Homo sapiens: one gene and its partner. The protein of the gene in region 1 purifies or fractionates together with the protein of each later gene. This does not show direct contact. Each region holds a gene or a part of one and is shown on either strand. Other genes may lie near its edges.

What was found. Proteins that work in one complex are often made in the same cells at the same time.
Region 2: the proteins of COQ8B (region 1) and TMEM165 purify together in Homo sapiens (affinity purification with mass spectrometry; one large-scale study listed by BioGRID and IntAct). This does not show direct contact.

The regions. Positions count from the first base shown.
Region 1 is NC_000019.10:40,710,387-40,713,886, forward strand, and holds part of COQ8B (atypical kinase COQ8B, mitochondrial), read right to left. Parts: intron 1-3,500.
Region 2 is NC_000004.12:55,423,316-55,426,675, reverse strand, and holds the end of TMEM165 (putative divalent cation/proton antiporter TMEM165 precursor), read right to left. Parts: intron 2,139-3,360; coding exon 2,033-2,138; intron 1,301-2,032; coding exon 1,224-1,300; 3' UTR 501-1,223; downstream 1-500. UniProt on the Homo sapiens protein: Putative divalent cation:proton antiporter that exchanges calcium or manganese ions for protons across the Golgi membrane.

The DNA.
Region 1 (3,500 bases):
GGCACGCGCCCACCACGCCTGGCTAAATTTTTTTTGTATTTTTAGTAGAGACGGGGTTTCACCGTGTTGGCCAGGCTGGTCTCGAACTCCTGACCTCAGGTGATCCTCCCGCCTCGGCCTCCCAAAGTGCTGGGATTATAGGCATGAGACACCGCACTCAGTCTTGTCTCCCAATTCTTTGTATCTCTGTTTCCAAATCAGTCTCTGACTCTGTTCCTGCATGGGGCTCCCTTTAAGGTGCAGCTTCCTCTTTCTTTAACCCTTTCTCCATGTCTCTGTCTCCCTCCCAGCAGTTCTCAGCCCTGGCTGCACATTCCAGTTACCAGAGGAGCTCCGGTAAATATAATGCCCAGACTCCACTCCCCAAATTCTGATTAAATTGGCCTGAGACATGGGAATTTGTGTTTTGTTAAAAAGCACCTCAGATAATTCTAATGTGCGATCAAGGTTAAGAAGGCCCCTCGGCCGGGCACAGTGGCTCATGCCTATGATCCCAGCACTTTGGGAGGCCGAGGTGGGCAGATCATCTGAAGTCAGGAGGTCGAGACCAGCCTGGCCAACGTGGAGAAACCCTGTCTCTACTAAAAATACAAAATCAGCCGGGCGTGGTGGTGCATGCCTGTAATCCCAGCTACTCAAGAGGCTGAGGCAGGAGAATCGCTTGAACCTGGGAGACAGAGGTTGCGGTGAGCCGAGATCACACCATTGCACTCCAGCCTGGGAAACAAGAGAGAAACTCCGTCTCAAAAAAAAAAAAAAAAAGAAGGCCCCGAAACAATTGTCCTAGGTCCCTCTGTCTTCTGGTGACTCTTCTTTCTCTGTCCACACCTCCTCTTCTTTATGCTTATCTCTTTTTCTTTTTAGAGACAGGGTCTCACTCTGTCGCCCAGGCTGGAGTGCAATGGCACCATCATAACTCACTGCAGCCTCAAATTCCTGAGCTCAAGTGATCCTCTTCCCTCAGCCTCCTGAGTAGCTGAGACCACACGTGCATACCACCACGCTCACCTAATTTTTTATTGAGACAGGGTCTCACTATGTTGCCCAGGCTGGTCTGGAACTCCAGAACTCACGTGATCCTCCTGCCTCGGCCTCCCAAAGTGCTGGGATTACAGGTGTGGGCTACCAGGCTTGACCTCTCCCTTTCTAAGCCAGTTATTTCTGCATCTCTTGCCTTCTCCCCATTTGTCCTATCTATCTAGATCTCTTTCTCTCTTTTCCTCCCTTTGATGTTATCTCTCCATCTCTGATTTCCTCTGCTACCTCTCCTCTTGTCCCTAAAGACGTCTCGGGTCTCTCTCCTTCTTTTGTTGTCACCATCTCTGTCAATTACCATATCTGGCATTTTCTGTGTCCTTTCTACATGTCAGGGGCTGTTCCCAGTGCCTTCTGTGCACTTACTAATTTTTGTCCTTACATGAGGTCTCCACCTTCATAAAATGTATTTTACAGAAAACTTCCATTTTACAGAAAAGGAAATTGAGGTTCAGAGAAGTGAAGTAATTTGCCCAGAGTCACGTCACAAAGCGAGGACACAGCAGAGTCATCCCTTAATCCCTGGGCAGCCTGGTGCCAAAGCTCTAACCAGTGCCTTTGACTGCCTCTGCAGACTGTGAATCTATCTATGTATATATATATAGATTTTTTTTTTTTGAGACAGAGTTTCACTCTTGCTGCCCAGGCTGGAGTGCAATGGTGCGATCTTGGTTCACTGCAATCTCTACCTCCTGGGTACAAGCAAGTGAATCTATATTTTTAAAACTTGAACCAGGCGGGGCATGGTAGCTCACGCCTATAATCCCAGCACTTTGGGAGGCTGAGGCAGGTGGATCACGAGGTGAGGAGTTCGAGATCAGCTTGACCAACATGGTGAAACCCCATCTCTACTAAAAATACAGAAATTAGCGGTCAGGCACAGTGGCTCACGTCTGTAATCCTGGCACTTTAGGAGGCCAAGGCAGGCGGATCATGAGGTCAGGAGATCGAGACCATCCTGGCCAACATGGTGAAACCCTGTCTCCCTAAGAAAAAAAAAAAAAAAAACAACAAAAAATAGTTGGACGTGGTGGCGTGCATCTGTAACCCCCGCTACTCAGGAGGCTGAGGCAGGAGAATTGCTTGAACCTGGGAGGTGGAGGTTGCAGTGAGCTGAGATCATGCCACTGCACTCCAGTCTGGGTGACAGAGCAAGACTCCATCTCAAAAACAAAAACAAAAACAAAACTTGAACCATGATCAGCAATAAGAAGACATTTACGTTATAACCAGTGCAGACCAAGGTATATGTTTCACGAAACAAGACTTTCCCTTGCTCTACAGGTGCATGCATATTTTCTGTCCTATTCTTCTTTTTAAATGCTGGTTGCAACCCACTAAATTATTTCATGTGACTTGCACGACATCCGGCTGTGTAACCCAAAGTCAAGTGACCTCCCCTTTGTTAGCCTCAATGTCCTCATGTACGGAATAGAACACTCATTGATTCAGTGCAGCATGTGTGTATATGGGACACTGCACATTACAGGTTCTCAGTAAATGTTATTATGGCCAGGAGCAGTGGCTCATGCCTAGAACCCCAGCACTTCGGGAGGCCGAGGCAGGAGGATCGCTTGAGACCAACTTGAGCAACATAGGGAGACCCTATCTCTACAAAAAAATATTTTTTAAATTACCCAGGCCAGGCACAGTGGCTTCCCGGGCACCGTGGCTCACATCTGTAAATCCCAACACTTTGGGAGGCCGAAGTGGGTGGATCACTTGAGGTCAGGAGTTCAAGACCAGCCTGGCCAACATGGTGAAATTCTGTCTCTACTAAAAGTACAAAAATTAGCCAGGCGGCCAGGTGTGGTGGCTCACGCCTGTAATCCCAGCACTTGGGAAGGCTGAGGCAGGCGGATCACAAAGCGAGGACATAGCAGAGTCATCCCTTGAACCCTGGGCAGCCTGGTGCCAAAGCTCTACCACTGCCTGACAAACATGGTGAAACCCCGTCTCTACTAAAAATACAAAAATTAGCCGGGTGTGGTGGATGCATGCCTGTAATCCCAGCTACTTGGGAGTGTGAGGCAGGAGAATCGGCTTGAACCCGGGAGGTGGAGGTTGCAGTGAGCCAAGATGGCGCCACTGCACTCCAGCCTGGGTGACAGAGGGATACTCCGTCTCAAAAAAAAAAAAAAAAAAATAGCCAGGCATAGTGGCAGGCACCTGTAATCCCAGCTACTCAGGAGGCTGTGGCAGGAGAATTGCTTGAATGTAGGAGGCAGAGGTTGCAATGAGCCAAGACGGTGCCACTGCACTCCAGCCTGGGCAACAGAGCGAGACTCTGTCTCAAAGGAAAAAAAAAAAAAAATTACCCGGGCGGATGGTGCACAACTGTGGTCCCAGCTACTCAGGAGGCTGAGGCGAGAGAATTGCTTGAGCCCAGAAGTTTGAGGCTGCAGTGATCGCGCCACTGCACTCCAGCCTGGGTGACAAAGTGAGACTCTGTCTCAAAAAAAAAA
Region 2 (3,360 bases), on another chromosome or scaffold:
CTCTGGGTCTCCTATTATACCTCACACAAATAACATGGATGTTTCTGTAGAATTGTCCTTCAATTTAGTGAGGCTATTAATGGGAATGTTACTGCATATGATTCTAGAATATAAAAGGCTGAGAGAAAGCAGCTGTTATGCTACTTGGGTGAAGTAGTAGTCAAATCAAAATATACTCAAACGAGGGTGACGACTGAAGTTGCCATGAAAAAATGAGGTAGTCTTAGCATAATGAATGACATTAGGCTCTGGAATTAAACCGCCTGGTGTGACTCTACCATGTAACCTTGGGTGAGTTAGTTTTTTTCTTTTTTAACCTTATATTAGTACCTACTACCTCACAGAACTGTAAGGGTGACAATGCTTTCGAACAATGCCTGGCTCCTGTTTAGCTACTTTAGGCATATCTCAAATATTTAATATGTTAGTGTTTTTACATCAGCTTTAGAAATTGGCCTATCAATACTGATAATTTTATATGACACACAAGGAAAAACAAGCACTGGTCATACCACTTTTATTTATATTGTTATCTATGTTACATTGTTTATTCAATATAGAAAAAATATGAATACATTCATAGTATTCTCTTTTAATTTGGTAATTCCACATTGTCAAATATTGACTGTTTTTATATTGGGTGTCCTACCCAATTAAAAAAAAAAGAGGAAGAATGACCTGGCAGACAGTTCTTGTTGTGCCATGTTATTGATATAACAGCAATATCATATATGTCTCTTTTTTTAAACACCTAGTTTTGAAAAGACCAATGATTAAACTACTGTTTACTGGCTCAGGGAAATGTTTTAAGAAATAGAAATTAATTCATTCTTTCCCCAAGAAAAACTTTAAGGTAAACATCTTAAAACACCTAAGTGATGAAGGAGAAAATTTGTATTCCTTAAAAAGGGGTCAGTGCTGAAAGAAAATTGCATGGTAGACCCCACTGCACAACGGTTCTGCACCAAAAGAAAAATGAGGACCATATTAACATAATTATGTTGGAGAGAAGAAAAACCCACACTTAGAAGTCAGGTTTCTTTTAAAACTCCTTGTTACAAATAGAATCAATGATTATATCTCAGACATAATAATGGGTCAAACTCACAAAATCAGTGCTACAAAATACAGTATTTTTCCATCACTTTTAGTTGTAATGTACACTATGTACAGAAAGATAATACTACCTATTTTAAACTAAATATAGATGAACAAACAGCTTGTTAAAAACCAGAATCAGGGCTTATAAATAGTGCAGAAAATGCAAACGCCAAAAAAACGATGCCTCCTATGATTGTCACTGGAAGAGAGAGAAAAAAAGTCAAATACAGTAAAATTCCTATACCTTGATACTGTACAAAATGAAAAGGGAGCCGATGAGGCGGCCAATTATTCTTCCAATCTATTAAACTAACCTTGAAAACAAATTAGAATCACTTCAACCCCTTTTACATAACAAGGAACAATACTTAACATGCTTGACTGTGAACACTAAGAATCAGGTTTTCTCCAGCACTGTTTTGAGAAATGACAGGATTGTATTAAATCCAGACAGTGCTGGCAAGCAACAGTAGAACTATAACTCATCTTAAAATCCAGTTATAAAAGAAAATGTTCAGGTCTTCTGACTAGCAAAGAGACGATTCTTCCATCTCTAGACCTAACTGTGGCTTCACAGGACATATTCAGCAGAATCAGTACATATGGTCTCCACATGATTCCAGTCTTGTAAGACACATTTTTAGAGCCAAAAACTTCTCATACTTCCAAATGACAATTGTTTTACTAAGATAATATGTTAACAAGAAGCTACTATGAATTCGATAAAAATGACTTTGTATTTTGCTAACTTCTACACAGGTGAAAAAAGTCCGTATTTGCAATACCAGGATTAATACCTCTATAAGAGATGGTAGGTAATTAGAAAAACCAAGTATACTTCAGCAGCAGAAATTTAAATAATCAAAGCTAACACCCTTTAATCTCTCAGTGATTCTAAAATGTTATCTGATTTGTAATTTTCAAGACTTACCAGTTCTGACAGAGATTTTCTGTGCTATCATTCTTCCTCCAATTACTGCCAATCCCGTGCACAGGCAGTGCCCCACAGTTCCACCCACGGCTACACCATAGGGGTCCTGGAAGCAAGCGTCACAGCATTAATTCAAAACCAAGGTGACAACTGCTGCTTGAGAACCATAACAATTCAGAAGCACTAAAAATGGTGGCCAACAATTAAAAAGCATAATAGTTATAAAAATGCAGGTGTATAATAAATTTATGAGAGGTGTAATGGCTGCTTGAAGGAATATGTACCAGTTATACTTAAGACTAGACCTAAAAGTTGAAATAACCCAAATCAATTTGTAAAGTCAAACAAATCCTGATGAAATAAAGCTAATCGAACCTTTCAGCAGTTATTAAACTTCCTTCACAGGCAATACGTAGCACTGCTATGACAAGTGCTAGGGAGGATTTTAAGCTAGACATCTGTTCCCTCAGATACTGCTTGGTATTAGGAGAAACTCAGTCAATCCTTCACAGAATAGTATGCCTCTGCTTCCTGGGAACAGAAACCCTGCCTCAGTGCCAGGAATCAAGGATTTATCCAGTGAACACATGTTACCTGAGCAAAGCAGACACTCAGATTAGGGGGAGAGGGGTATGTAGTAAAAGTTTCCCAGAAGATAGTCCTGAAGAATGAACAGGGCATAGTGAGAATGTGATTTTGTTTTGTGGGAGAAGGAACATGCTAAATAGAAAGCAAAGGCCAGCAGTACCAGACAACCAGCTGCAGAGCCCTTCAGCATTTCACAAAAGGAGGTCATGAGGGTAGGTGGGAGTCCAGGTGAGGGAGGACCCTATCATCTTGGAGTTTAAACTGTGTCCTCAGACACTTGTTGGTTTTTAGCTGGAAAGTAACAGAACAGATTAATGCTTCAGAAATCCGCTAGGCCAGGTGCAGTGGCTCATGCCTGTAATCCCAACACTTTGGGAGGCTGAAGCAAGAGGATTGCTTGAGCCTGGCAGTTTGAGACTAGCCTAGGCAACACAGTGAGACCTTGTCTCTACAAAAAAATTAAAAATTAGCCAGGCATCCTAGCAAGCACAAGTGGTCCCAGCTACTCGGGAGGCTGAGGTGGGAGGATCATTTGAGCCCAGGAGGTCGTGGCTGCAGTGAGCTATGATTGTTCTCCATCCTGGGCAACAGAGCAAGACCCTATCTCAAAAATTTTTTAAAGTCTAGTGGAGAGAAAGAACCAGAGGGGAACAAGACTGAAGGAAGGGTGATCCACTGCGATGCTATGGCAACAGCCCTGGGAAGAAACTGCGTTGCCCCAGATCGGGGCAGATGACTGT